7 linked regions of the Homo sapiens genome follow. The protein of the gene in region 1 interacts with the protein of each later gene in a pairwise test. Each region holds a gene or a part of one and is shown in the gene's direction. Other genes may lie near its edges. The genes, in order: SFRP4, NARF, PTPN12, DLC1, CKMT1B, PTPRJ and PDGFRL.

Evidence for each region.
Region 2: the proteins of SFRP4 (region 1) and NARF interact in a two-hybrid assay, tested with the Homo sapiens proteins (one large-scale study listed by BioGRID and IntAct).
Region 3: the proteins of SFRP4 (region 1) and PTPN12 interact in a two-hybrid assay, tested with the Homo sapiens proteins (one large-scale study listed by BioGRID and IntAct).
Region 4: the proteins of SFRP4 (region 1) and DLC1 interact in a two-hybrid assay, tested with the Homo sapiens proteins (one large-scale study listed by BioGRID and IntAct).
Region 5: the proteins of SFRP4 (region 1) and CKMT1B interact in a two-hybrid assay, tested with the Homo sapiens proteins (one large-scale study listed by BioGRID).
Region 6: the proteins of SFRP4 (region 1) and PTPRJ interact in a two-hybrid assay, tested with the Homo sapiens proteins (one large-scale study listed by BioGRID and IntAct).
Region 7: the proteins of SFRP4 (region 1) and PDGFRL interact in a two-hybrid assay, tested with the Homo sapiens proteins (one large-scale study listed by BioGRID and IntAct).

Annotation. Positions count from the first base shown.
Region 1 is NC_000007.14:37,909,663-37,913,989, reverse strand, and holds part of SFRP4 (secreted frizzled-related protein 4 precursor), read left to right. Parts: intron 1-1,672; coding exon 1,673-1,871; intron 1,872-4,309; coding exon 4,310-4,327.
Region 2 is NC_000017.11:82,464,629-82,468,955, forward strand, and holds part of NARF (nuclear prelamin A recognition factor), read left to right. Parts: intron 1-4,135; coding exon 4,136-4,268; intron 4,269-4,327.
Region 3 is NC_000007.14:77,595,966-77,600,292, forward strand, and holds part of PTPN12 (tyrosine-protein phosphatase non-receptor type 12), read left to right. Parts: intron 1-1,876; coding exon 1,877-1,936; intron 1,937-4,327. UniProt on the Homo sapiens protein: Dephosphorylates a range of proteins, and thereby regulates cellular signaling cascades. Dephosphorylates cellular tyrosine kinases, such as ERBB2 and PTK2B/PYK2, and thereby regulates signaling via ERBB2 and PTK2B/PYK2.
Region 4 is NC_000008.11:13,084,512-13,088,838, reverse strand, and holds part of DLC1 (rho GTPase-activating protein 7), read left to right. Parts: intron 1-134; coding exon 135-352; intron 353-2,375; coding exon 2,376-2,549; intron 2,550-2,907; coding exon 2,908-3,028; 3' UTR 3,029-4,327. UniProt on the Homo sapiens protein: Functions as a GTPase-activating protein for the small GTPases RHOA, RHOB, RHOC and CDC42, terminating their downstream signaling.
Region 5 is NC_000015.10:43,596,200-43,599,906, forward strand, and holds the end of CKMT1B (creatine kinase U-type, mitochondrial precursor), read left to right. Parts: intron 1-7; coding exon 8-93; intron 94-208; coding exon 209-332; intron 333-1,176; exon of another isoform or gene 1,177-1,993; coding exon 1,994-2,128; intron 2,129-2,627; coding exon 2,628-2,753; intron 2,754-2,957; coding exon 2,958-3,074; 3' UTR 3,075-3,207; downstream 3,208-3,707. Other genes in the region: STRC (stereocilin precursor), read right to left, coding at 3,473-3,561. UniProt on the Homo sapiens protein: Reversibly catalyzes the transfer of phosphate between ATP and various phosphogens (e.g. creatine phosphate).
Region 6 is NC_000011.10:48,133,684-48,138,010, forward strand, and holds part of PTPRJ (receptor-type tyrosine-protein phosphatase eta isoform 1 precursor), read left to right. Parts: intron 1-2,355; coding exon 2,356-2,613; intron 2,614-3,319; coding exon 3,320-3,598; intron 3,599-4,327. UniProt on the Homo sapiens protein: Tyrosine phosphatase which dephosphorylates or contributes to the dephosphorylation of CTNND1, FLT3, PDGFRB, MET, KDR, LYN, SRC, MAPK1, MAPK3, EGFR, TJP1, OCLN, PIK3R1 and PIK3R2. Plays a role in cell adhesion, migration, proliferation and differentiation.
Region 7 is NC_000008.11:17,621,811-17,626,137, forward strand, and holds part of PDGFRL (platelet-derived growth factor receptor-like protein precursor), read left to right. Parts: intron 1-4,327.

The DNA of each region.
Region 1 (4,327 bases):
GGTGATAAAAATTACATGCATCAGATTGAAAATTTGACATCTTGATCCTCCTTGTCTTGGTGAGAAGTGCTTATCAGCCCTGATGGCACACCCCACCTGTTCTCTTCCTGAGGTTTTACTGCTGCAGGAAGAATGAGAGAATGATCCATGGATCTGATTATCTGAGAGTCAGAGAATTAAGGCCCATAGGCCCAGACAATTAAGATCTGCCTGCATATCCTTTTACTTGTGACTAGCTACAAATATTTAACATCTTAAATAAATTGTGAAAAAAATGTTAATCACAAAATCCTATGGTTACACTATCGAACTAGTTTAAATGCCCTCCTCTCTCTTACTTGAAAGAACCATTCAGCATTTTCTTCCATGAATAAGTCAGTCATGAAATTTGAAATGTTTTAAGTAATTTTAATTTCACAATTGTCATCTGAAAGTAAATTTAATTAACATATGTTCTTTTTCAATTCAAAAAGAAATGTAAAAGGCAGACATTTTAAAAATGTCTGTTTGGGCTGCCTACTTTATATTTCATTGCATGTCTTAAATCATTTCTGCTGAAATAACATAAAGTGGTTTTAGGGAAAATGCTTATTTTGTTTGCTGACTTAGTTTTCATCTTGCAGATTGAAATTTTATATCAGTAAGAAACTTTAGGATACATATCAGACATGAAAGTAGGAGGATCACAGAAATGTAGAAATCTGAAAAAAAATAAGCTGTTACAAAACTATCAGATTTAAGAATCATATTTAGCCAATGGGGGTAATTCAGCAACAACAAAAAGTAGTTTATCTTTTCCTGTAGCTTTTTTTCTTAAAGCCTGCTCTATGTAGCTACCATCCTCATCTGATTTACTTAGTCCCTCCTCTGCCAAGATCCAGCCTGAGATATTAATCTGAGTTTCACTGTCATGTCATTCTCTGGGGTGTTATGGCCTTTGAACGACCTTGATGAAGAAACCATTTTGTATTCAAGTCCTTTGGTGTCTTCATAAACTGGCTTCCTGAAATGGAATCCAAGACAGAGCCATATTAGGCTGATTACAACTCTACGGGAGGCAGTAATAGCAAGAGACCACAGAAACCAGCATTTAAAACTTGGTCAGAGACAGTGACATTAACAGCCATCTGTAATAACAGTTCTATCTCTGCTCACCATGGGTCTACTTTGTCAGTCTGTGAAGTTAAAAGATTGAGAACAGTAGTCCTCAGAGACTCCCTCCAGTTCAAAAATGTTATGACTAATGACTATCTCTGTAAAACAGAAGAAGCTCAAGCATCAGATGAGTGATTGAAGAAATGCAAACCTTAAGATGACTTCTGATCTGAATATATATGATCCCCACTTCAAATCACCACAAGGAAGAATACAAATATATGTTTCTGTGAATTTTTTACTGACCTAAAGGCAGAGAAAGACTAAAACCTGCTTTTCAGCTTGCTTTCCTATCTTGCAGTATGCCCCGGAACATTTAAGACAATGTTGACAATATAGGACACCATCCATTTAGCATATGACTGTGTGGGCTGTTTGCCTGCACTCAGGCCACTTGGACATAACCATAATTACAGGAGTGATTCTTTAAGAGAGGCTCAGAAGTTGGCATGAATACACCATCCCTAGTTTTTCCCCAAAACCTTCAACAACACTTTTATCTATTTTTAAATTGCAGTTATTCATGCCAAAATAAAAGCTGTGCAGAGGAGTGGCTGCAATGAGGTCACAACGGTGGTGGATGTAAAAGAGATCTTCAAGTCCTCATCACCCATCCCTCGAACTCAAGTCCCGCTCATTACAAATTCTTCTTGCCAGTGTCCACACATCCTGCCCCATCAAGATGTTCTCATCATGTGTTACGAGTGGCGCTCAAGGTAGGCACAAAGAGGCAGAAGGAACTGTATGCACACTGTTAGGAAGACCTCAATCTCAGTTAGCAGTCATGGTTTAAAAATATAACAAAAATATGCCAAAGTCTTTTTAAAAAAATTAGTTTAACAGATGCCTCTGTTTGAATAGCATATATTCTATCAATTAATTCTTCATAGAATGAAGGAAAAATCAAAATATGAGTATTTGAATAGAGTCTTTAAAAATCAGTTTCAAAATTCATTAAGTGACTTCAAAATTTACAGCAAGTCAATTATTTTAAGGAAGAACAATTCTTTTCAAATCATTCAAACAATTTTAGAGTGGCACATACTGAACTTTTAAGGCCACTTTAATAGCTTACAGATCAAGTAAGTAGGGAGTTGAGACTATAGTTCCACATATTTTCCATATAAACACTTCATAATATTTGATAGAGTATTGCAAACAAACACGCATGCACACACACACACTTTAAGGTGATTTCTGAATCGGATATGTGATTCTCAATTCAAATCATCACAAGGCAATGTATAAACAAATAAATATATGCTTCACACACACTCATACACATACACACAAATTCTAGCTGTGTGTATTTGTCTCCCTGGCCTCTCTTTCTTTCTTATTTTTTTTGGATATTGGTACATTACTTGTAATATAAAGTCAAACTCTTGAGCCCAGCCTCCATGTTGGGCCCCATAAGTTGATGCAGTATACTTCTCCAGCAAAATCACTCAGTTTTACATAACAAGGCATCCCTCCCATTCTCTGCTGTTAATGCTCATCTGTTTCTTCTAGATATAACCTAAGACTATTCCTCTGAAAAGAAACCAAAAACATCTTTGGGAACTAACTCCACTTTTCTGTATTCTATCAGTACTTGGGTGCCCTCCTTACAACATGGATATCACCTTGAGTTCTTGGTTTTAAAGCCAGATTCTGCGTATATCTTGTCTCCCTAAAGAAGCAATCAGTGATTCTGGACTCATCTCTACCAAGGTGTTTGCATCTGCTGCAGTGCTAGAGATCCAGTTGGGGATACCAGGTTGTTGGTCATTACATTCTATCTGGAGAGATGAATGGATTATAATCCATCCCAGTAAAAATAGTTTTGGATAATTGGGATTTATGTCCTCACAAATGATTCTAATAAATTGGTAAGGGTATGTAAAGACAATTCTGAAAATAAGAGAGGAAATCTGCCTTATGAGACCCGCAAACCTGGTGTAAAGTTACACTTGTTAAAACCATGTGATGCAATAGTAGACGTAAAGATAAATGAAACAGAGGAAAAACTCTTGAAACAGGTTTTAATGCATAAAATACAGCTTTTCATTATGAAGGAAATATGGCACATCAATAGAAAATGAATGTATTATTTGGTAAATGTTGAAAATATTCCTATTTGTAAAAAAATACATTCTTTTCACTTTATACTGTGCTTTACAATAACTTTCAAATGGATTAAATAGATAAATATTCTAAGAACTTTAAAAAAAGGACAAAATTAGTGACTAAATATGTTATATCTGAAAAGAAAAGTAATTTGTAAACATAAAAGTAATGTAAGAAATTACAAGGAAAAATATCAATACACATATCTGACTGCATAATATTATACATATAAAAATCACAAATAATGATAGAAAGGCAAATAAAAATTGAGAAACATACTTGAAAAGATATGAAAAAATAGTAATCTTACTAAAGAGTTCATAAAATTAATATTTAAACATTGAGATCATGATATAGAAATATATATACAGAAATTTATATAGAGAAGTTCAAATAGTAATACAAATAGAATACAGATAGTAAGTAAACATTTAAAAAATTATCTCCTTAATTCTAAATCCAAATAAAAATAAGATTCCATTTTCACCTAATTCTTAATGTTAGTGAATTGGATGAAAGTGCAACCATTTTGAAAACAACTTGGCACTATGCATTGAAAATCTTTTTAAAAAATACATACCCTTTAACTCAGTTATTCTATTTTAAAAATCTGTCCTAAGAAAATAATAAGCCAGTGCACACTACTGTATACAGGGTTATTCAATGCAATACTGGTAATCATAGCTAAGCAAAAGGGGAATTCAGCAATAAAGAAATGGATAGATATATTATGGATATCCATATTCATAGTATTATATTATTAACATTATATTTTTAAATTACTCTAATTACATCAGAAAATTTAGATCATATAATGACAAAAGGAAATTTGCAGATCAGCAGATCATCTCAATACACAATGTGATCTAATAAATATAATTAATATTGTTACAAGGAGGAATGAAAGGAAACACCAATAAAATATAAATGGTGGATGTGTGGATTATGGGGTAAAGGATTATTGAATAATTTTTTTACAATTTCTGTATTTTTAGCTGTTTACTTTTGTAATAAAAATCTGTTTACTAAGATAATTTTTTTTCAGGATGATGCTTCTTGAAAA
Region 2 (4,327 bases), on another chromosome or scaffold:
TAATAATGCTCAGGCAGTGGTGGGGGGCTGGCATCACCCCTCAGGCTCCTGTGGCTTAAGCGGGGCCTCTGCCTGGTGAGGTCAGGTAACACGGGTGTTGGTGATCATGCGGGCAGCACAGAGCCGGAGCTCCTGCTGTTCTGCCTCGGCTGCACGTTTTCGGACACGAGAGTTATGTTCTAATAGACCGATCAGCTTGGGGCAAGGCAGAGACACTCCAAGGAAGTAAAAATTCCCAAAGCTCCTTCCTTCAGCTCATCCCTGCAGACCTCCTATACAGAACGAGAGGTGCCACTTGTCTTTCCGTGAGACAGGTTGTATTAGTCCATTCTCACATTGCTACAAAGAACTACGTGACACTGGCTAATTTATAAAGCAGAGAGGTTTAATTGACTCACAGTTCCACAGGATCTACAGGAGACATGGCTGGGGAGGCCTCAGGGAACAACCATGGCGGAAGGGTGAAGGGGAAGCAAGCATGTCTTCACGTGGCAGCAGGAGAGAGCAAGTAAAGGGGGAGGTGCTGCACCCTTGTAAACAACCAGATCTTGTGAGGACTCACTCACTATCATGAGAAGAGCAAGTGGGAGATCCGCCCCCATGACCCAGTCACCTCCTGCCAGGCCCAGCCTTCAGTTTCACATGAGATTTGGGTGGGGACGCAGAGCCAAACCATATCACAGGTGAAAGAGAAAGAGACAAAGGCAGATGAGGCTGAAAAGCACTTCTTGGTTTCCATGCTGTCACCTCCACGGGAAGCACCGGCATCCTACCCTGCCCAGGGTGTAGGAGCCCATTCACAGTAGGTAGTGTGCTAGAGCAAGGTAGGGGCCTCAAGAAACACTGACTGGCACAAGTGGGTGGCATAGGGGACAGCCAAGGAGCCTTCTCAGCGTTTGCCATTCACCCCCATGGCTTCTGGACAAGTCATCCAGCAGCAATTAGATCACAATATTTTTCTTTGTGAGACAGGGCCTCACCCAGGCTGGAGTGCAGTGGAGAGAGTCTCAGTGGGGAGACTCTGGTGATCCTCCCACCTCTGGAGGCTCCCTGTAGCCTCCAGAGCAGCTGGGACTACAGACGCGTGCTACCACACCTGCCTAATTTTTGTATTGTTTGTAGAGACAGGGTTTTGCCATGTTGCCCAGGCTGGTCCTGAACTCCTGTGCTCAAGCGATCCTCCAGCCTCAGCCTCCCAAAGTGTTAGGATTATAGGCATCAGCCACCACCCATGACCTAGATCACAATTGCAGATAGAGACACATGTCCTCTGTGTTGCCAGCATTAGTTGTGTCTGGGTGTACCCTGACTTATATGCACTTGCACGGGAACTCCGTTAGCAAGCAGCAGGCTGCCTGGATAGGATGGTCTGAACCAGGAGATGCCCCCCACCCATCAGCCAGGTTCGCCATGCATACCCGTCCCCACCTGCTCACCCTTGGCCTTTCAGGGAACAGAATGGCTTCAGCCATTTTGTTACGTTGAACAGACTTAGTGGATACAGCTTTGCAGACTACTAGAGACTTAATTCTGTGGTGTCAACGGTTTTTGCAAAAACCCTTGAAAGTGTCTGTGTCACTTTATGCTTCCCTAAGTGATAGGGGCAAACAGCTGTGTGCAGCCATCCTGGTCACATTCAATATCAAATTCAGTTTTTTCCCCCCTGATACATAGAGAATTGTATCTCATTTGCATTTTCTTGCTTATTTAGAGAAGTTGGTTACCCTAGATGATGTTTATTGACAGTTTATATTTTATCTTATGCTGCTTGTCCAGTCTACAACTTATATTTTAGTACGGTGTGCGATGTGAATACATTCTTCTTCCTTTTTTTTCTTTTCTGAGATGGAGTCTCTCACTGTCTCTCAGGCTGGGGTGCAGTGTCGTGATCTCAGCTTATTGCAACCTCTCCTTCCTGGGTTCAAGCAATTCTCCTACCTCAGCCTCTCAAGTAGCTAGAGTTACAGGCAGGCACCACCATGCCCAGCTAATTTTTGCATTTTTAGTAGAGATGGGGTTTCATCATGTTGGCCAGGCTGGTCTCGAACTCCTGACCTCAAGTGATGTGCTCGCCTCGGCCTCCCAAAGTGCTGGGATTACAGACGTGAGCCACCACACCCGGCCAGATACATTCTTTTCTATTTGAAAAAATCAAATTGTTCCAGCATCTTCTGTTCTTCCCCTGTTGACCTGAAATATTATCCTACCTCTCTTATATATTGATAGATGTGCATCCATTTGTTTCTTTTTTTTCGGCCTTCACCATGTTGGCCAGGCTGGTCTTGAATTCCTGGCTTCAAGTGATCCACCTGCCTTGGCCTCCCAAAGTGCTGGGATTACGGGCATAAGCCACCGTACCTGGCCTTCTTTTTTTTTTTTTTCCCCATTACTTCCACCCCACCCTTGTACTGCGTGTCTATTTCTTGACCCTTTTTTGAGATGGAGTCTCACTCTGTCGCCCAGGCTTGAGTGCAGTGGCACGATCTTGGCTAACTGCGACCTCCACCTCCTGGGTTCAAGCAGTTTTCCTGCCTCAGCCCCCTGAGTATCTGGGATTACAGGTGCACACCACCATGTCTGGCTAGCTTTTGTATTTTTAGTAGAGATGGGGTTTCTCCCTTTTGGCCAGGCTGGTCTCGAGCTCCTGACCTCAGGCTATCCACCAGCCCCGGCCTCCCAAAGTGCTGGGATTATAGGCATGAGCCACCACGCCTGGCCCTTGACTCTTATATCTGAACCTGTCTTCTATTGCGCTGCCAACATCTAGTTTATGCTAGTTTATGCAGTATTTTTTTAGAACAGTTTGTAGATGAGGCTTACTCACAAAACATCTTAGGCCTGGTAACTTTTTTTTTATTTTTTTATTTTTTATTTTTGGAGATGGAGTCTCACTCTGTCGCCCAGGCTGGAGTGCAGTGGAGCAATCTCAGCTCACTGCAACCTCCATTTCACTTCAACCTCCACCTCCCGGGTTCAAGCGATTCTTCTGCCTCAGCCTCCCGAGTAGCTGGGATTACAGGCACATGCCACCACACCCAGCTAATTTTTGTATTTTTAGTAGAGATGGGTTTCGCCATGTTGGCCAGGCTGATCTTGAACTCCTGACCTCAAATGATCCGCCTGCCTCAGCCTCCCACAGTTCTGGGATTACAGGTATGAGCCACCATGCCCAGCCGGGCTGATGACTTTTAAGAGGCATCTCTGGATACCATTTTAGTGTGTCTGTTTTTTTTATTGTTGTGTAGTAATTTCACTTATTCATTGGCCAATGTTGTAATTTGTATTTTCCCTTTAAAATTATTTATTTTTTCCAGATATTCACATTTACTGATATAACATTGTTCTTGAAATTGACAAAGTCTTTTAGATCTGTAGTCTTGTCTCTTTTAAGACAGAGTATTGGCCAGGCTAGGTGGCTCACACCTGTAATCCCAGCACTTTGGGAGGCCGAGGCAGGTGGATCACAAGGTCAGGAGTTTGAGACCAGGCTGCCCAATATGGCAAAACCCCGTCTCTACCAAAAAGACAAAAAATTAGCTGGGTGTAGTGGCAGGTCCCTATAATCCCAGCTACTTGGGAGGCTGAGGCAGGAGAACCACTTGAACCTGGGAGGCAGAAGTTGCAGCGAGCTGAGATCGCGCCACTGTACTGTAGCCTGGGCAACAAGGGTGAAACTCTGTTTTTTTTTTTTTTTTACTGTAGCCTGGGCAACAAGGGTGAAACTCTTTTTTTTTTGAGACAGAGTATTACTCTGTCACTCAGGCTAGAGCGCAGTGGCTATGGCTGTTCCTAAGTGTGATTATAGCGCTCTGCAGTCTCAAACTCCTGGCCTCAAGTGATCCTCCTGTTTCAGCCTCCTGTGTAGCTGGAACTGTAGGCATGCACCACTGAAGCCAGCTCATGTTTCATTTTTTAAATCCTGACTTTTAAAAAAATATTTACCAGAAGCCCAAACCTCACCATAATCCTGATTTTTTTTCTCCTTTTTCTTAATTATGTTTGCCAGTGTTTGTCTATTTTATTAGTCTTTGCATAGACCATCTATTAACGTTGTTCTGAATTTCTCATTAAGGTGTGTAACTTTTACTCCTTGTGTAATCAGCAGATACCTAACATTCTCTATTTCTCCTTCTAGAAATGTGATACCTCAAAGCACAAAGTGCTGGTAGTGTCTGTGTGTCCTCAATCTTTGCCTTATTTTGCTGCTAAATTCAACCTCAGTGTAACTGATGCATCCAGAAGACTCTGTGGTTTCCTCAAAAGTCTTGGTGAGTCATCTTTTGATAAATTGGGAATGTATAACTTGAGTTTATAAGCGCCCTTTTTA
Region 3 (4,327 bases), about 40 Mb from region 1:
TCTTCCCTCTTCCTTCTTCAGTTGCTATCCAGTTAATTGAAACTTGAATGTTAGGGAAAATCATGTGTTATGGAAAGGTAAAATGGTTGAAGATAGGATATGGTGGTTGGTACTGAGGAATGACATTCTATGTATATTTACATGATTCTGGGGGTGGTTACTACTTTGCAGATATTTTATTGGGTGGTAGATGCTTAAGTAATTCGTTTAGACACTTTTTTTTAGGTATAAGTAAAACTTACAAAAGCAAATTGATGTTTTTTTCTTTACTGTCTATACAAATTTTTTTAATGAATTTTTTTTCTTCAAGTTTCTTAGTTTAGTAGGTAACTTGATTCCCAAATTCACTTCTCTTATTTGTACATATTGTTTGGGTCTATCTGTTAGGAGACTTTATCTGATAGGAGACTTCATTTTAAGGTTTTTAAAAAAATTTTTTTTTTAGTGTTTTTTGTTTTGAGACAGGGTCTCACTGTGTCACCCAGACTGGAATGCAGCGACGTGATCGCAGCTCACTATATAGCCTTGGCCTCACTGCTGGGCTTAGTGATCCACCTACCTCAGCCTCCCAAGTAGCTGAGAGCACAGGCTTACGCCTCAATGTCCAGCTAGTTTTTGTATTTTTTTGTAGAGACAGGGTTCTGCTATATTGTTCAGGCTGGTCTTGAACCCCTAGGCTAAAGCGATCCGTCCACCTCAGCCTCTCAAACTACTGGCATTACAGGTGTGAGCCACTGCCTAACTTTTTCAAGACTATTTTTTTTAGAGCAGTTTTAGGTTTACAGCAAAATTGAGAGGAAGGTACAGAGATTTCTTATATACACCCTGTCCCCACACATGTAGCCCTCATTATCAACATTCCCTACCAGAGCAGTCTCTTTGTTACAATTCACAAACCTACATTGACAAGTCATTATCACCAAGAGTTCACATTTTACATTAGGGTTCATTCTTGGTGCTATACATTCTGTGGGTTTGAAGAAATATATGATGACGTGTATCCACCATTGTGGTATCATACAGAATAGTGTCATTGCTCTAAAAGTCCTGTGCTCCACCTATTCATTCATCTCACCCCCTTCCCAACCCTAGGTAGTCATTATTTTTACTGTCTCCATAGTTTTGCCTTTTTCAGAAGTCATATAGTTTGTTTTTGTTTGTTTGTTTGTTTGTTTTGAGACGGAGTCTTGCTCTGTCGCCCAGGCTGGAGTGCGGTGGCACTATCTCAGCTCACTATAACCTCTGCCTCCTGGGTTCAAGCAATTCTACTGCCTCAACCTCCTGAGTAGCTGGGATTACAGGTGCGCGCCACCACACACAGCTAAGTTTTGTATTTTCGTAGAGATGGGGTTTTACCATGTTGGCCAGGCTGGTCTCGAACTCCTGACCTCAAGTGATCCACCTGCCTCAGCCTCCTGAAGTGCTGGAATTACAGGCATGAGCCACTGCTCCCAGCTCAGAAGTCATATAGTTTGAATCATACAGTATGTAGCCTTTTCAGATTGGCTTATTTCACTTAGTAATGTGCATTTAGGGTTCATCCATGTCTTTTCATGGCTTACTAGCTCTTTTTTTCCTTTTATTATTTTTAATTGACACATAGTATCTATACTTATTAATGGGGTACATGTGATTTTGGTACATGTATGTGTAATTTAAAATGTGGAGTGACTAAATCAGGATAATTAGCATGTCTATCACTTCAAACATTTCAAATGTTTGATGACTTTTAGAATTTTTTTATAATTATCAGGTACATCTGGAATTTTAAAGATTAATTTTATATTGTGGACTTTGATACAAGTATTTTATTTGTTTTGATGTGTCTTTTTGTTTTAACGTTTTCACTGACTTAGAAATGTTTCTCTTTATTTAGGAGGATGAACAAGCAAGAACAGACTACTTCATCAGGACACTCTTACTTGAATTTCAAAATGTAGGTACTTACCATTTATAGACTATCTGTAAGAATAGTTTTCAGGCTGGGTGCAGTGGCTCATGCCTGTAATCCCAACACTTTGGGAGGCTGAAGTGGGAGGGTGACTTGAGTCCAGGGGTTCAAGACTAGCCTGGGCAACATAGTGAGATCTTGTGTCTACAAAAAGAAAAAAGTTAGCCGGGCATGGTGGCATGTGCCCATAGTCCCACTCACTCAGAAGGCTGAGCCCGGGAGGTTGAGGCTGCAGTGAGCCATGATTGTGCCACTGCACTCCAGCCTGGGCAACAGAGGGAGACTCTCAAAAATGGTTTTGAGAATAGAGAATAGTTTTCAAAGAGAAGACATAGAGAGGGAGGGGAGCGTGGGCTGAAAAACCACCTATTGGGTAGTATGCTCACTCCTTTGGTAAGGATCATTTGTATTCCAGACCTCAGCATTATACAATACACCCATGTAAGCTGCACATGTACCCCTTAATCCAAAATAAAAGTTGAGGCCAGGTATGGTGGCTCACTCCTGTAATCCCCAACACTTTGGGTGGCTGAGGTGGGTTGGTCACTTGAGGCCAGGAGTTCAAGACCAGCCTGGCCAACACGGCGAAGCCCCATCTCTACTAAAAAATACTAAAATTAGCTGGGCATGGTGGTGCACACCTATAATCCCAGCTACTCAGGAGGCTGAGGCACTTGAATTGCTTGAGCCTGGGAGACAGAGGTTGCAATAAGCCGAGATGGTGCCACTGCACTCTAGCCTGGGCAACAGAGCAAGACTCTGTCTCAAAAAATAAAATAAAAAATAAAATAAATGTTTTAAAAATAGAAAATATAATACTACTACCTAAATGTTTTATTTGGTAAAATGGGTTTGCTAGAAAATTATTTTGCTTTATATCTGCAAAATGCAAATAATATATATAATATATATTATTATTTTGCTTTATATCTGCTTTATAGTTTTTTGTAAGTAAAAAAAGTAACAGCAATTTTTATTTTTAAAGCATGTGAAGTTAGTTTTTGTCTTTGCAAACTAATCAACTTTTAGCTACTAAAAAAATAAAACAAGCTATATAAATAGTATACTATGTTATTTAACATAATTAATGAAATTTGGTAATTTTTTAGTTACGAAGATGAAATGAGAGTGTAATATTTAGTCTTGACATTTATGCTTATCACATTACATAAAAAGTAATATTAATTATAACATACCCTAAATTTGTTAAATTTGGAATAGTTATACCTTCTTTGCAGCAAATATTTTTATTCTATTGCAGTAAGCAGGTTATTGCATTGTTTATATAATTATTACCCTGTTTTACTGGTTTACAATTTGTTAAAGAAAAGTCACTATCAAAGCTAAGTCTTCATTTAGATATATATTGTTTTTAGTTGAAACCCCCCACAGCGCCCCGACTTTTTTTTTTTTTTTTTTGGCAACAGGGTCTCACTATATATTGCCCAGGCTGGACTCAAACTCCTGAGCTCAAGCAGTCCTCCCATCTCCACCTTCCTAGTATCTGAGACTATAGGGATGAGCCACCAAACCCAGCTAAATTTTTTATAGTTTATAGAGATGAAGTCTTGCCATGTTGCTCAGGCTGCTGTCAAATTCCTGGCCTTGAGTGATCTTGCCTTTTGCATTGGCCACCCAAAGTGTTGGGATTACAGATGTGAGCCACTGAATCTGGACTGGTTGCTAATTTTTTAATCTACGGTAATAATAATAAGTACCTTAATGAATTTCTGTGGTAGATCAGGCATCTTAATTCTGCTAACTGCATCATATCCAGATACTGTTACGTCTGTTGCACATAGATGAAGATACAGAAGCTTTAAGAAGTTAAATAGCTTACCTGAAGTTATTTAGGAAATGGCCAAAGTAGGAATTTGAGTATGGTTTGCTTAGATTCCGAGTATTGCTCTTTCTGTTAAACACCTGCAATAACCATTCTCAAAACATTTGACATCAGTACTCCTTTACATTCTTCAAAGTTATTGAGGATCCCAAAGTTTTTGTTTCTGGGGGTTGTATCTTTCAGTATATACTATATTTGAAATTAAAACTGAGAAATTTTTAAAAAACATGAATACATAAGCATATATTGTATTGGCTGTTAAAGAATAAGGCACGTAACATTTTAGTATTATTCTGAGAATTATTTAAAGCTCATAGACTCCCTCAAAAGGGTTGAGGGGAGGGGGTACCCAGACCGTATATTGAGAACCACTAATCTGTAAGAAGACTAGTGAGTTTGGCATTGGACAAATTCATCTCTCCATTCTTTTTCAGTTTAATGTTCTGTTAGTCTTCTGATTACAATGAATACTACTCTAACCTACTCTAACATGGTGCTTACGGTATATTGCTCATCCATTTAATAGTGTAGAT
Region 4 (4,327 bases), on another chromosome or scaffold:
AGTATTATTTATATCATTTAATCAATTAACGTTGATTATATGTAACTAAAATTGTTAGTCTAACTAACAATTCGACTTCAAAAACTAGGTGTGTATGGATTGCCTTGGCACTGAAAAATACATCCTCTTTCCAGGTGAGCGAAGGACCCCCTCTGAGGCTTTGGAGGTCAGTCATTGAAGTCCCTGCTGTGCCAGAGGAAATCTTAAAGCGCCTACTTAAAGAACAGCACCTCTGGGATGTAGACCTGTTGGATTCAAAAGTGATCGAAATTCTGGACAGCCAAACTGAAATTTACCAGTATGTCCAAAACAGTATGGCACCTCATCCTGCTCGAGACTACGTTGTTTTAAGGTGAGCGCTTCCCAGTTGTTTTTTTGTGACAAGGATGACTCCATATATGAACCAAGCCTATATGTCACTGATCTTACAAGATGGTATAATTATTTAAAGTAGAGGCCGGGCATATGGTGGCTCACACCTGTAATCCCAGCACTCTGGGAGGCCAAGGTGGGAGGATCACTTGAGGCCAGCAGTTCAAGACCAGCCTGGGTAATATAGCAAGACCCTATCTCTACAAAAAAATTTTAAAAATCAGCTAGATGTTGTGGTGCATGCCTGTAGTCCTAGCTACTCGGGAGGCCGAGGCAGGAGGATCCCTTGAGCCAGGAGTTTGAGGCCGCAGTGAGCTGTGAGCATGCCACTGTACCGCAGCCTGGGCAACAGAGCAAGACCTTATTTCTGAATAAACAAAACAAAACATATGCTTCCAGAAAAGTAGTGAACACCTTCAAATATGGAAAACAGATCTACATTTATTCTAGCAGTGTGTTCCTCGCTGAGAATGGTCTGAACTCTTTGGTAACTGAGCTCAGAAAGAGAGGCCCCTTCCAATGAATATGCTCATTCGTAGCAGATTTTTGCCCCTTTTAGGATAGATTTTCTTGTCAGAAACAGCTAGTGAATGAATAAGCCAGGAAATAACATTTGAGTCCCAAGGGAGATGTGGTTAAGGCTGATGTATGTGTAATTCATAAATTCTCTGGAGATATTACTGAAAGAAGAATTCCAAAAATCTTTGTGGAAATGTCACATTGGAAGTCCAGACCTTTTCAAACAGCCAGCGCTCCTTTAGGTGTCTGTGTTCCAAGACATTTGTGAAATAGAAAAATGGTTTTAAGCTACACTTCAAATGGGCTCTTTTTTCAAAGAGGAGACTGTCTGAGCACATAAACCCTCTGTAACAACGGCTCTGTACAGAGTTCCTCATTCAGCAGTCCTTGTACAGTGTCTTCGTGCATGTAATGCTGCTCTAACAGAATCTCACAGACCAGGCAATTATAATGAACAGATATTTATTTGGCTCATGGTTCTAAAGGCTGGGAAGTTCAAGATCAAGTAGTTGCATCTGGTTAGTTGGTTGGTTGTTTGATTGATTTGGGGACATGGTTTCATTCTGTCACCAAGGCTAGGGTGCAGTGGCACACTCATGGCTGCTGAAGCCTTCACCTCCCAGGCTCAAGCAATCCTCCCCCCTCAGCCTCCCAAGTAGTTGGGACTGCAGGCATGTGCCATCACACCTGGCTAATTTTTTTGTTTCTGGTAGAGACATGGTGTCACCATATTGTCCAGGCTGGTCTCAAAACTCCTGGGCTCAAGCGATCCTCCTACCTCAACCTCCCAAAGCGCCGGGATTACAGGCATGGGCCACCCACCATGCCTAATGAGGGTCTTTTTGCTGTGTCATCCCATAGTGGAAGGGCAAAGAGAGGGCAAGGGAGAGCAAAAGAGCAAATGTGCAGCCTCAAGCCATTTTTATTTTTATATTTATTTATTTTGAGATGGGGGGGTATCACTTTGTTGCCCAAGTTTGAGTACAGTGGCATGATTACAGCTTAAGCAATCCTACCATCTCAGCCCCCGGAGTAGCTGAGACTACAGGAGCACACCACCATGCCCGGCTAATATTTTTTATTTTTAGTAGAGATGAGGTATCACTATGTTGTCCAGGCTGGTCTTGAACTCCTGAGCTCAAGCAGTCCTCCCTCCCCAGCTTCCCAAAGTGCTGGGATTACAGGCGTGAGCCATGGAACCCAGCCTTAAGCTCTTTTATAATTGGCATTAATCCAGCTCCCATTAGGCCCCACCTCCCAACACTGTTGTATTGGGCATTCACTTTCCATCACATGCTTTTTGGGGAACACATGTACACCATAGCAAGTAGTTTAGAGGATGCCATTTACCTAGGCCTGGGTCACACAGCATGGCCACTGAGCCTGACCCGTCACCACACTGCAAATAGTGAAGAGTGAAGCACGATTTTAAACTTGGCTTCTATGAAATTCCATCATTTCTGCCTCTGGTTTTGTCTCTACAGAACCTGGAGGACTAATTTACCCAAAGGAGCCTGTGCCCTTTTACTAACCTCTGTGGATCACGATCGCGCACCTGTGGTGGGTGTGAGGGTTAATGTGCTCTTGTCCAGGTATTTGATTGAACCCTGTGGGCCAGGAAAATCCAAACTCACCTACATGTGCAGAGTTGACTTAAGGTATGTTCTGATTCTGATTTTTTTATATGGTGAGGGTCATGAAGGAAATTCTGACTTTTTGTCTAATGCAAAGAATGCCTTAAACAAACACGTCATTTTTTCTTGGTGACTTCATGAAGAATGGTGTTTAGAAAGTAGCATTTCATGTTTGTTGGTCTTTCAGCGACCACTTCGTAATTTGGTTCCCTTAGAAAATGTGGTTCTAAAGCAAAGCAAATATGGTAGCTCGGCCATGAATTCAAAGGCATGGGAAATGATAGATTTTATGCATTTGAACTAGCAAACAGATGTTTCTCATTTTATTTCCATGCTTTCTAACTTAAATAATTCATCAGCTTTTCTTTCTTTTCTCTGATAGGGGCCACATGCCAGAATGGTACACAAAATCTTTTGGACATTTGTGTGCAGCTGAAGTTGTAAAGATCCGGGATTCCTTCAGTAACCAGAACACTGAAACCAAAGACACCAAATCTAGGTGATCACTGAAGCAACGCAACCGCTTCCACCACCATGGTGTTTGTTTCTAGAACTTTTGCCAGTCCTTGAAGAATGGGTTCTGTGTCTAATCCTGAAACAAAGAAAACTACAAGCTGGAGTGTAGGAATTGACTATAGCAATTTGATACATTTTTAAAGCTGCTTCCTGTTTGTTGAGGGTCTGTATTCATAGACCTTGACTGGAATATGTAAGACTGTGCAAAAAAAAAAAAAAAATTTATGTGTATTCTTATTCAAATTGCTTCTGAGAAGCAAAACTCTTTAAATACATTATGGAAGATAATGAAGATACTTCATTCTCTTGTGATATCAGTGTATGCGTACCTGTGTCGCTTTATTTGCAGTGTGTTGAGGGACTGGTGTATCCACTGGAATAGTTGGTACTCTTGGATGTGTTTTCTCACCAAGATGAGCAAAGAAAGGTTTGCACAGAGGAGTGTGAATGTGTGTTTGTTGCTGGCTGAATGGCAATAGATGTCTAAGGTGGATTCAGTGTCTGGCACACTGAGACACCTCCAAGAAGGAGATTGATGCATCAGGTTCAGTTTAACCTGGAATATCTGACTACCCCTGAATCCACCCAGAAAGGGGGCCCAACACCCTTGTCCATTTATGGGTATTTTTTTTCGAAGTTATTAAGCATATTCCTTTTCCACGAACCTCTTCTGTACTTTGATTGTAATAGGTTGGCTCTTACACCCATTCCAAATGCAGTTTATTTTTAGACCCGATTGCAAATAGTGATGTAGTTTTAACCAGTATGGATTAGTTCAGGGATGAACTGCTCCCTCTAGCCTTACTGGCTCTGATCCACAGGGTTTTGTTTTGTTTTGTTTTGTTTTTTGTTTAAGTCGAGATATAAAAACTGAACACGATAACACTTACTCTTAAATCAAGCATCAACACTTTTTCCCTGTTAGAATTCTTTGCATTTTTGTGTTTGTAACAGAAACGCCTTAAGACACTATGTTTGGGAATATAGGAAACTATGTGTGTCCCAAGGAAATCCCTGTAAATTTAACTCACCTACAAAAGGCTTTTTCCCCGCCTTTGGTTGTTAACGGCATTCCTGAAAGCCACATGTGTTTATTCATTGGGCTTGTTCTTATCAGCAAATAGGTTTTCTGGTTTTATGACTTTTTGTCTTATTTTATTTTTCCTACATTTCTTTTTTTTTTTTTTTCCTTTAGAATGCCCTGGAAATATATTTAAGTGGTAATGAAAAATAGTAATCATAGTAAAACGCAACAAGAAGAAAACCAACCCAAACCAGTGAAGTTT
Region 5 (3,707 bases), on another chromosome or scaffold:
TTCCCAGGACCACTTTCTGTTTGATAAGCCTGTGTCCCCGTTGCTGACTGCAGCAGGAATGGCTCGAGACTGGCCAGATGCTCGTGGAATTTGGTATGAAGCTGCTCATTACCTCTTTTGTCTTCATGCCCTCATAAATGCTTTTTTTCCCTCTATCTCTCCCAATTCTTGCCTTGCCTCTTGATCACTGTCCCTCTCCGGCCCTCAGGCACAACAATGAGAAGAGCTTCCTGATCTGGGTGAATGAGGAGGATCATACACGGGTGATCTCCATGGAGAAGGGTGGTAACATGAAGAGAGTGTTTGAAAGATTCTGCCGAGGCCTCAAAGAGGTTAGAGAAGACTATGTAGGGGAGCTAGGTGGGAGGACATAAGGAAAACCAAAGAGTAGCATAAATAGATTATGTAATTTACCAACCAACCCAGGACATGTCTTATAGTAAAAAGGACTATCTAGGACTCACTCCAGGACTAAAGGTGTAAACCAGCTGGGACCATACTGGGAAAACCAGGACATGTGGTCACACTAAGATTAGGAAAAGAAAGAGTGTCAGGAATCTTAGGAAGTGAACAAGGCTGTTGACAGAGAGTGCAAAGAAGGAATAAATGAGATGGCACGTCAGTGCCTGGGATGTGTGCAGTGGGATGGTGAGGTGTGCAGATAAGGAAAACATTCGAGCTTAGATTGATGTTGGCGGGGAGAGGTTGCTGTGTTCATGACTCTAATATAACCACCCAGTTCTGAGACAAGGTAGGCCTTGACTCTGGATTCTATCATTCTTGTTAAAGTATCGGGTCTAGGCTTTAAGTTGAGAGTTCGGAGAGAGACTGGGGAAGGTGGAGGATAGAATGGTTCAAGTTCTAGAATATGTGGCTCTAGATGAGAGGTTGAACTGAATCATCAATCCTACATGGATTGGGTCTCCGTATTCAAGTCTACATTAGAAATCCCCATAAACTCAATTCAATTCTTACTGTATGTTCTCAAACATACAGTTCTATTTTAGGTTTGCAAAGAAAAAGAGCTCCTCTTTTAGATTCTGAGAAGTTTCTACTATTTTTGGCAAGTAATAGATAACATATTCTGACTATGAGTGGGTAGGGAAGTACCTTTAAATTATATGCCTCAGTTTCCTCATCTGTAAAATTGGGATAATGAGATTTTCTACATTTTAGGTTGTTGTGGGGATTAAGTGAAATACAGGTAAAGTACTTGGTCCACAGTAAGTGCTTAATAAGTGTTAAAGTGTTAGCTGCAATATTATTCTGGATGGAAGAGTTTCCCCCCATGTTCAGCATGTAAGATATCCCCTATGGCATGGTTCCTTCTGAACTATAAAGAGGATCCCTTTACTCATGTTGGGTTGTGGTCTTTGTGACCATCATTCTGCTAGATCCCTTGTCTCTTGAACTCTAATAGTCATCTTCATGACTACATGGTTAAGTGAAGCCAAACGCCTTCCCCCCGCCCCCTATTCCTATGAATCTGGCTTTTCTGCTCTGTTTTCATCTTTCTCTGCATTCACACAGGTGCTCCGTTCACAGCTAACAGAATGTTATCTTACCTCTTCCTGGCAAAGCTTACACCTTCATCTTCTGTCTGAAGGGACCCTTCTAAGCTCTAGGCTCATTAGCAAAGCAAAGATAATCGATGCATGCAGACCTCATTGAATAATCAGTCATCTCTCAGTTCAGTTTACCACCTCTGTTCATTTCCCTAGATCATCCTTAATACACCACTCCTTCGAGTTTTCTTCTTCCACATAAGATATTTTTTCACAATCTCATTATTATGCACATCATAATTTTGCATCATGCATGCATGAAAACAATAACAAACCTTTTTCATTTAAAAAAAGACCAATGTCATTCATTCACAGCCAAGTTTCTGTTCTAGACATATTTCTAGTGTTCTTGTGGGTCTAGCTAAGGGAGGGTCCAGGGTTAATGAAATATCCCTGATTTTTCGTTAACAAAACCTTTGTGGACTCAGGTGGAGAGACTTATCCAAGAACGTGGCTGGGAGTTCATGTGGAATGAGCGTTTGGGATACATCTTGACCTGTCCATCTAACCTGGGCACTGGACTTCGGGCAGGAGTGCACATCAAACTGCCCCTGCTAAGCAAAGTAAAGGAGTTGTGGGGTTACAGAGGGGTGTGAGTAAGGAAGGGTGGGTTGTGGATGGGGAGGGAGTGGACCCTTTGGAAAGGAGCCAAACATGTTGTGGCTAAAGGGTCAGAGGACAGGCCAGGCACAGTGGCTCATGCCTCTAATCCCAACACTTGGGAGGCCAAGGCAGGCAGATTACTTGAGCCCAGGAGTTCAAGACCAGCCTGGGCAACCTGGTGAAACCCCATCTCTACTACAAATACAAAAGTTAGCTGGGTGTAGTGGAGGCTGAGGTGAGAGGATCACTTAAGCCTGGGAAGTCGAGGCTTCAGTGAGCTGTGATCACTCCAGCCTGGGTGACAGAGAGAGACCCTGTCTAAAAAAAATTAAAAAAGAAAAAAGAAAAAAGGAAAAAAAAAGTTCAGGAGACAGAGCTCTGAGCAGGTTCAGGGCTCTTTCAGGTAGGACTAGTCTCTGCCTCTATTGACCCTGCTCCCAATCCCTATCTCCTCTCTAGGATAGCCGCTTCCCAAAGATCCTGGAGAACCTAAGACTCCAAAAACGTGGTACTGGAGGAGTGGACACTGCTGCTACAGGCGGTGTCTTTGATATTTCTAATTTGGACCGACTAGGCAAATCAGAGGTGAGATCCTAAGGGATTAGGACAAGGAGAGGTATAGGTCTGCGAGGGCCGAAATATGGCAGTGAGTGAGCCTCCGGGATGTAAGATAATCTGAAATGAAATTCAGGTTGAGTGGGGAGGCAATTGGAAATGAGCAGGCAAGTCAGTCAGTGATAAAGAAAAACTCAGACTGTAGGAAGCAGATCAAAGATTAGTGTCCCTTAGGTGGAGCTGGTGCAACTGGTCATCGATGGAGTAAACTATTTGATTGATTGTGAACGGCGTCTGGAGAGAGGCCAGGATATCCGCATCCCCACACCTGTCATCCACACCAAGCATTAACTCCCCATCGCCAGCTGATGACTCAAGATTCCCAGGAGTTCTGCTCATTCTAATGATGGCCCATTCTACTTGCTCTGGACCTGCCCCCGCATCCCCTGCCTCCATCCTAGTAAAGACTCCTTGCTATGCTGCAGCTGTCTGTGTTACTTCTAATGGTGGGGTGAGGAGGGAGCAGCCTTCAGGAAATGAAAAGAGGCAGTGGGATTATTTATGATGGAAAGAGACTCCAGATATGGCAACCCAGGAACACTGATTCTCAGGTGGGTGGAAAGCATTAACATTTTACCCATATTCCTCATCAGCTTCTGAAAATAATCAGGATGCACTTCTGTTTGCACTTTATTCATTATGACTTAAGATTTCTCTCCCCACAATCTCCTTCTACTGTAGAGACAGGCTCATAGCAGGTGGCCAAGGAAGCTGATAGTCAATACCAGGGACCAGGAAGGTCGTGACCAGTCCTGGAGGCCCCAGGCTGTACTTCGACCTATAATAGACAGGGAATGGGAGTAATATCACAACTCAGCTCTCCAGGAGCATTGATACTTGGAAATTAGCGCTCTGCCTGTAGACTCCTTCACTCCAGGGATCTCCCTGGGTGCACTCTAAGAGCCAGACAGCACCAAATTAGGG
Region 6 (4,327 bases), on another chromosome or scaffold:
ACAGTAGCCAAAGGTGGACCCAAGATCCCATCAACAAATGAATGGATAGATAAAATGTGGTTCATCCATACAACAAAATACTATTCAGCCATAAGAAAGAAAGAAATTCTGATTTATGGTACAACATGGATGGATCTTGAGGACATTATGCTAAGTGAAGCCAGACACAGAAGGACAAATACTGGATGATTCCACTTACATGAGTACCTAGATTAGGCAACTTAATATTCTACAGAAATTAGAATAGAGGTTACCAGGGGCTGTTCAGAGGAGGGAGTGGGCATTATTGTTTAATGGCTACAGTTTATGCTGGGGATAATGACAGTGTTTTGGGTACAGGTAGTGGTGATAGTTACACAACATTGTGAATATTGATGATACCGAATTGTACACTGACAAATGGTTAAGATGATAAATATTATGGTATGTATGTTTTACCACAATAAAAATGAAAAGGAACAAATATCTCTATTTTTCTAACCCAACTGAATTCCTTTTCTCTCTGTGTCCACAGTCATACATTTTGCTTGTATACTGTAATTATTATACAAATACTTTTATTTTGTATTTGAATTTCTTTTTACTCAGTCTATACCACAACTTTCCCCTATAGTTAGCATGGCCTTCATATTTTTAGTGGCTAAAGAGTATTTCATCATGCAGCCAGATCACAGTGCCCACAGCCCTCCCCATGTTATTGAATATTTAGGTTGTTTCTAGGTTTTTATGTTTATAGACAAAGGCTGCCTTTCATGGGCTTTTGTCTGTGGAATCCCTTTGACATCAGGAATCTGCTGGTAGGAAACAAAGGCTCCTCCCAGTGGCTTCTCTGTAAGGAGAATCCACTTAAAATTAAAAAAAAAATTAATTTTGGAGTAGATAGTACGTAAACATGGCACAATTTTTTTTGTTTTTTGGACAAGGTGTTTGCAGTGAAAGCATTTCCCTTTTTTGTCCCCTACCTGCCCATTTCCTCTCCCTGGAGGTGACGTTTGTTGCCAGGTAAAGAGAGACAGGGTTGAAAGCCGCGGTAGAAAATAGGCCCAGCCTCCGCGGTTACTTCCGGGCCTCTATGTAGGCATCCCTGGTGCAGGTGGCTGAGTGGGCAGCGGGAGATGATCGGAGGATGGGCTCCTGTGGGAGATTCCATTTCTGACTCTGCTCTGAAGGTGCAGGGTGTGCCTGTTTTCTTCCCTTCCTCATCCGTCCTCAAATGCTGCAACTTAGTAAAGGTCAGCTCTCCATTTCAGTTTTCCTCTTTGGTATGTAAGGCTGTGTCACGGGAAGATGTTTCCTTCTGAGTGACTGATTTAAAAAACACAACAAAACAAAAAAACCTCTTTATTGAGATATAATATACATACCGAAAAGGGATGTATCCTCAGCACATAGCTTCATGAACTTTTACAAACTGAACACATCTTGTTACCAGCACCCATATAAAAAAACTGAATGTGATTTCCACTTCAGATGACCCCTTGAAGGGCTTTTTTTTTTTTTTTTTTTTTGAGATGGAGTTTCGCTCTTGTTGCCCAGGCTGGAGTGCGATGGCGCGATCTTGGCTCACTGCAACCTCTGCCTTCCGGGTTCAAGTGATTCTCCTGCCTCAGCCTCCCAAGTAGCTGGGACTACAGGCATGCACCACCACGCCCGGCTAATTTTGTACTTTTTTTGATAGAGACGGGGTTTCTCCATGCTGGTCAGGCTGGTCTCAAACTCCCGACTTCAGGTGATCCGCCTGCCTTGGCTGCCCAAAGTGCTGGGATTACAGGCGTGATCCACCGCGCCTGGCCTTTTTTTTTTTTTTTTTTTTTTTGAGACAGAGCCTCATTCTGTCGCCCAGGCTGGAGTGCAGTGGTGTGATATCGGCTCACTGCAACCTCTGCCTTCTGGGTTCAAGCGACTCTTGTGCCCCAGCCTCCCGAGTAGCTGGGATTACAGGCGTGTACCACCACACCCAACTAATTTTTGTATTTTTAGTAGAGATGGGTTTTCACCATGTTGGCCAGGCTAGTCTCGAACCTCTGACCTCAAGTGATCCATCTCGGCTTCCCAAAATGTTGGGATTACAGGCATGAGCCATTGCACCCAGCCTAAGGGCTCATTTTTAAGACAACAACAAAAAACTGGAGAACTGGTAAGATAAACTGGGAAGTTCATGTGCGTCACAGAAGAGCTGAAATTCTTGAGAGCACTGAGTGTGTGCATTTCTCAGCTCGATTTTGGAGTGTGCCTTTTGTGAACTCATTAGAAAGCGTAATGGCAAAAGAGCAGGTCCTCTCGACAGCACTTGGAGAGGAAGCTGGGCGTCATGATAGTAACAGTTTTCCCTTCTCCTTCCTTTCTTCTGAGCAGTTCCCAGTGCAGTGTTTGACATCCACGTGGTCTACGTCACCACCACGGAGATGTGGCTGGACTGGAAGAGCCCTGACGGTGCTTCCGAGTATGTCTACCATTTAGTCATAGAGTCCAAGCATGGCTCTAACCACACAAGCACGTATGACAAAGCGATTACTCTCCAGGGCCTGATTCCGGGCACCTTATATAACATCACCATCTCTCCAGAAGTGGACCACGTCTGGGGGGACCCCAACTCCACTGCACAGTACACACGTAAGTCTCTTAGGATGCCCTTCTAAGGAACAGCCTCTCTAACTGTCTCTTGGAGGAGGCACTGGTTAAATGATGGCCAGTGTGCTTCTGGGATCCAGGTTGACTCTGAAACTGCTGAAGTTGAAAACATTGGTCTCAGCAATGGTTCTGCTGTCACCATGGGGCACTGTTCTTCAAGCTATGTGAACTTAGAATTGTCATTAGAAGGAAGAAATGATTCCTTGGGAATGGTGACTGAAATGGTTCTAGTCATTCCTTGAGAATACAGAGTAGAGAAGGGTCACCTTGTCATGTTGGTATTGGAAGATACTGCCCAGATGAGGAGCTTCGCCTGCAACAGTTAGGGAGGTGTTTTGCGAATATTTGAATTAAATACATGGTAAAGATGTTAGTTTGTAATATGTTTTTAGTATATTTTTCTCCATCTATTAGATTTAAAAAACAGATTAGAAATTAAATGTTAAAAATATATTTGAAATAAACTTGAAGTATTAAAAGAAGCCTAAATTAAACTTCTTTTGAGACTTAATCTGTATAATTATTTTCTTGATGTGTTTTTGGGAAGTTTTCCATCTTTTGAGCCAGCAAATACTAGTTTTATTCATTCTTTCTAAAACGAGCCAGGCTATTTTTGGATATAGTAAATAGTCCTGGAATTCTACTTAATCTGTGCTTTTACATGAATTGCCTTTTTTTTAAAATCAAGGGCCCAGCAATGTGTCCAACATTGATGTAAGTACCAACACCACAGCAGCAACTTTAAGTTGGCAGAACTTTGATGACGCCTCTCCCACGTACTCCTACTGCCTTCTTATTGAGAAGGCTGGAAATTCCAGCAACGCAACACAAGTAGTCACGGACATTGGAATTACTGACGCTACAGTCACTGAATTAATACCTGGCTCATCATACACAGTGGAGATCTTTGCACAAGTAGGGGATGGGATCAAGTCACTGGAACCTGGCCGGAAGTCATTCTGTACAGGTGAGTGTAGCCCCAACTGCCTCTTGGACTCCTCCCTGAGTGGTGCTGACCTTGCAGGTCAGTCCTCCCAAGTCTGTAGTTTGTCTGGTTTTGTGTGATGTGCAGTGATGGACATTGAGCTTTCCGAGGCATCCTGTTAGCTTATCGGTGCTGTCTCGATGCCCTCATCATTTCTGCATTCAATAAATATTTATTGAGCATATACCATATGCCAGTCAAGTCCTTGCCTTCTTGGAACTTTTCGAAGGAGGAAGTGGGATGTTTACCTAGAGTGCTCAGGAAAGGCCTCAATGACAAGGTGACTTTTGAGCAAAGATCTGAATGAAGGGAAGGAGCCAGCCATGTGGATATCAGGGCATGAGAACATTACAGGCAGAGGCCTGTGCAGAGGGGCCTGTGCAGCATCACCACTGTATCTGGAGGCTGGAGGAAGAGCAGGAGGCAAGGGTGGGAGGAGTGGACCCGCAGGAACAGGAGGATATAGGTGGGAGGTGAGGCCTGAGTGGGGCTGAGCCAGGATGTGGATGATATCTGGCATTGGTTTGTCTTTTGTGCTGGAGAAGATGAAAAGTTTATTGAAATGATGCCCAGCCTTTGCATCCTTCTTGATCCTCACCTATCTCACAACTGAAAATGTGTGATAAAGAGAAGAGCCCTCTGTGTAATTGAGGATGCTTTCAGGGCAGCCCAGGAAAGGCTTTGCAGACAGTGGTGGGCACTTCTGCTCAC
Region 7 (4,327 bases), on another chromosome or scaffold:
CCTCCCATTTGTCCTTTTTATTATTTTGTTTTTTGATTTTTCGGTAGAAGTGAGGTCTCACTGTGTTGCCCAGGCTGGTCTCGAACTCCTGAACTCAAGCTATCCTCCTGCTTCGGTCTCCCAAATTGCTGTAGTTACAGGCATGAGCCATTCTGCTCAGCCCTGTTTGTTCTTGTGAATACTATGAGCTGAGATTTCGGGGGCAAGATTCCCAAAGATTGTGGCTGTTGTGTCTCCAGTCCCTGTCCCTAAGCCTCAGTGGACTGCCTCAAAATGTTCAGGTCAGAGTGGAGAACTCTTCTCTGCAGTGCAAAGTATGTTTCTGGAAGATGGAGCTTGCATTTTGAGAAACACGTGTGCAGAATAACTGCTCAGCCTCTTTCTTCTGTAATGTTCTCTAAGTTCTGAAGTTTAGGGGATGAAGTTCTCCAGCAAGGTTCAGAAGTCAGTAAGAGCTTTCAGGAATCTTACAAAGCCACCCTCGTCCTATTGTCGTCCAAGACATTTCAGGTGAAACCAGAATCCTTTGTTAGTGCCTGGGCAGGGACTTTCATGAAATTTCTCCATGCCTTGAATCCACCTACCTTTCAGACGTAGACCTAGACATAGGCCTAGACCTAGACATAGGCCTATGACCCAAAGGATGTTATGCCCTGACCATTAAAGAATGTTTTAGTACAATCTTATGTATTTGTCCTTTCCTGCCCAAATAGCTCCTCTCTGGCAAGGAGATGCATTAGTAGGGTATGCTGCAGTTCTGGAAGCACATGTATCTCATTTTGATGCAGACTTTTTACTCCTTAGTTCAGAGATCCAAGTTCTTGTCTCATGCCAGGAAAACTTAGGCACACAGACACTTAAAAGAGTGCGTGGAGTAGAATTTATTATGCGAAAAGGAAAGCTCTCAGCAAAAAGAGGGGTCCTGAAAGCAGGTTGCAGGTTGCTCTCCACACAATTGAATACAAGGGCTTCTATGTTCCCTCGGTAGGGCTGGGTTCCCTGTTTGTAAGAGGCGTGAATTCCTGGCGGCTCCACCCCATCCTTTCAGTGTACCTGCAGGCCCTTAATCTGAGTCACTCCACGTTGATTTATTTCCCTTACTGCATGTGTGTTAAGGGATGGAATTTTTCACTGGGGGTATGTTTAGGCAAGACCCCTGTGCACAATGACCTTGGTAGGTCAGAGGTTCTCTAAGGACATTCCCGTATCTGCTTAGGAGAGTTCTCTGCCTCCTGCCTCTATCAGTTTCATTCCACAACATCCCTGGGAAATAAGCAAAAGCTATTTTATTATCTCCAAAATACTAGAAGTACTAATGCTCATGCTGAGCCTCAATGTTCCAGGACCTGTAGTGGCACAATAAGGAGCCAAACCTGTTTTTCTGACCCAGGATCCAGTGTTTTTACTGCCTTGAACCTTTTGTAGGACAAGGTGAAGGATGGACTGATAGCCAGATTCTAGCTAGCATAACTGGTGTTGTCAGGAGAATTGCTAATAATTGTTCATAGGCAATCTCTTTGGATCTTCATTTTGGAACTCGCTACACAAGATTGTAAATGTGCCCTTTGTATTATACCATGCTGTGAAGCAACAGTGGAAAAAGCAACCAACTAAGATGAATAAAAGTCTGTTATTCAAGTCAATGACTGATTCCACATTTCAAGTTGCAGAAGGAAGATTCTTTGCCAAGATTAGCACTGTTGTGTCTTCCCAAAGTATTGGTCGAGGTTTTGAACTGCAGGCTTAGCTTGGGCAGAATATCCTATTAATATTATGGGCTCTTGGCCAGGCATGGTAGCTCATACCTGTAATCCAGCACTTTGGGAGGCCACGGCGGGCGGATCACCTGAGGTCAGGAGTTCGAGAACAGCCTGGCCAACATGGAGAAATCCCATCTCTACAAAAATACAAAAGTTAGCTGGGCGTGGTGGTGCACAGTTGTGCTCCCAGCTGCTCAGGAGGCTGAAGCAGGAGGATCGCCTGAATCTCGGAGTTGGTGGTTGCAGTGAGTCAAGATTGCGCCACTGCACTCCAACCTGGGCGACAGAGCAAGACTTTACCTCAAAAAAAAAAAATACGGGCTCTCTTTGAGTTTTGGAGGCGGAACCTTTTTGTTTTTTTTTTAACTGAACTAATTTTGGGAACCAAAGAAAAGCTAAAATATATTCATTCCAACTATCAAGAAACTTTGATCAAAAAAAATAAATGCTGTAACACATTTGACCTAATGTGTTATACATCATTTATTTTTTCTTATTTGTCAACACTAAGCTAGGAGTCCAGTTGGATTTTTACTATAGGGTTTGGCAATTTGTCTTTTCAAGCATGGATGGCTTTGAGAAACCAAGATGGGCTGTTACAGAAGCTGAGGTTCTCACTGCTGGCTCAGGATTCTTTCAGAACATGTGTTTCCTGGCTACCCATGTGGAGAAATGTTTGTCATTCATTATGTTTGTATGTTTCCTAGAGTTTGATTAAAAACACTGAAGCTTCTTTTGGGGGACTGACTGTTGTTAGTGTGCAGTTTGTGATTAAATAATTGCCGTATGTATTTCCTCTTTCATCTTGATCCAGGAGGATCTTGGAAGGTTTTCCCTGCTTCTCTTTCACTTCTTATTGTAGTATAACATATGTAAAGAAAAACATTCAAATTCTCAGAATACAGCTCAATAAATTATCCTTAAGCAAACAGGCACATGTAACTCCCACCCAGATCAAGGATGAGAACATTACCAGCAGCAGAGCTTTCTCATAGTAAAAGGCTGAGGCTCTAATTTTTATACGTAGGAAAACCACATTAATAAGTACTTTCCTGGCTGGGTGCAGTGGCTCATGCCTATAATCCCCTAGCACTTTGGGAAGCCGAGGCAGGCGGATCACTTGAGGTCAGGAGTTCAAGACCAGCCTAACCAACATGGCGAAACTCCCTCTGTACTAAAATGCAAAAATTAGGTGGGCATGGTGGCACACGCCTGTAATTCCAGCTACTCGGGAGGCTGAGGCACAAGAATTGCTTACACCCAGGAGGCAGCGAGTCAAAGTTGCAGTGAGCCGAGATGGCACCACTGCATTCCAGCCTGGGTGACGGAGTGAGACTGTCTCAAAATACTGAATTTGTTGTAATTTGGATTTAGTTTATAGCTTGTTAACTTGCATTTATTTATTTTTTTATTTTTATTTTTATTTATTATTATTATACTTTAAGTTTTAGGGTACATGTGCACAATGTGCAGGTTAGTTACATATGTATACATGTGCCATGCTGGTGTGCTGCACCCATTAACTCGTCATTTAGCATTAGGTATATCTCCTAAAGCTATCCCTCCCCCCCCCGCATTTTTTTGTTTTTTTGTCTTTTTTGAGATGGAGTCTCCCTCTGTTGCCAGATTGGAGTGCAGTGGCACCATCTCAGCTCACTGCAACCTCCGACTCCCCGGTTCGAGCGATTCTCCTGCCTCAGCCTCCCGAGTAGCTGGGATTACAGGCATGCGCCACAGTGCCCAACGAATCTTTGTATTTTTAGCAGAGATGGGGTTTCACCATGTTGTCCAGGAGGGTCTCGGTCTCCTGACCTCATGATCCGCCTGCCTTGGCCTCCCAAAGTGCCGGGATTACAGGCGTGAGCCACTGCACCTGGTCGAGTTTTTTTTTTTAATCTAAAATCCCATGTGTTTAGTTTTCTTTAAGTAAAACATTTGTCTTCTAGATAAGTGGATATAAATACATTTGCAGGGGACATGTGTAATCTATAATTATTAAAACAAACTTCAACACTTTGTTATTGTTGATGGAAGCTACGGATTGCAAATATATTTTTAAAGCAACTGGTTTGGTCACATTTCAAAGTATGTATTATAGTATAAGAAGTAAAGTATATATTATAGTATAAGAAGTAAGGCTGGGAACATTGGCTCATGCCTGTAATCTCAGCACTTTGGGAGGCCAAGGCAGGAGGACTGCTTGAGTCCAGGAGTTTGAGACCAGCCTGGGCAACATAGTGAGACCCTGACTCTAGAAAAACTAAAAAATAAAAAATTAGACAGGCATGGTGGCACGTGCCTGTAGTCCCAGCTACTCAGGAGGCTGAGGTGGGAGGATCATTTGAGCCCTGGAGGTTGAAACTGCAGTAAGTCATGATGGTGCCACTGCACTCCAGCCTGGGCAACAGCGTGAGACCCTGTCTCAAAAAATAAAAATACAAGAAGATATTTTTGTGTTCTTAAATTCACACGGTTCACTTATTCGACTAATGGCTCTGCTTATCGCTTCAGATTATTCTACACACTTTTAAAACAAAAGTTGCCTCTAAATCTTGCAATCATAAAAT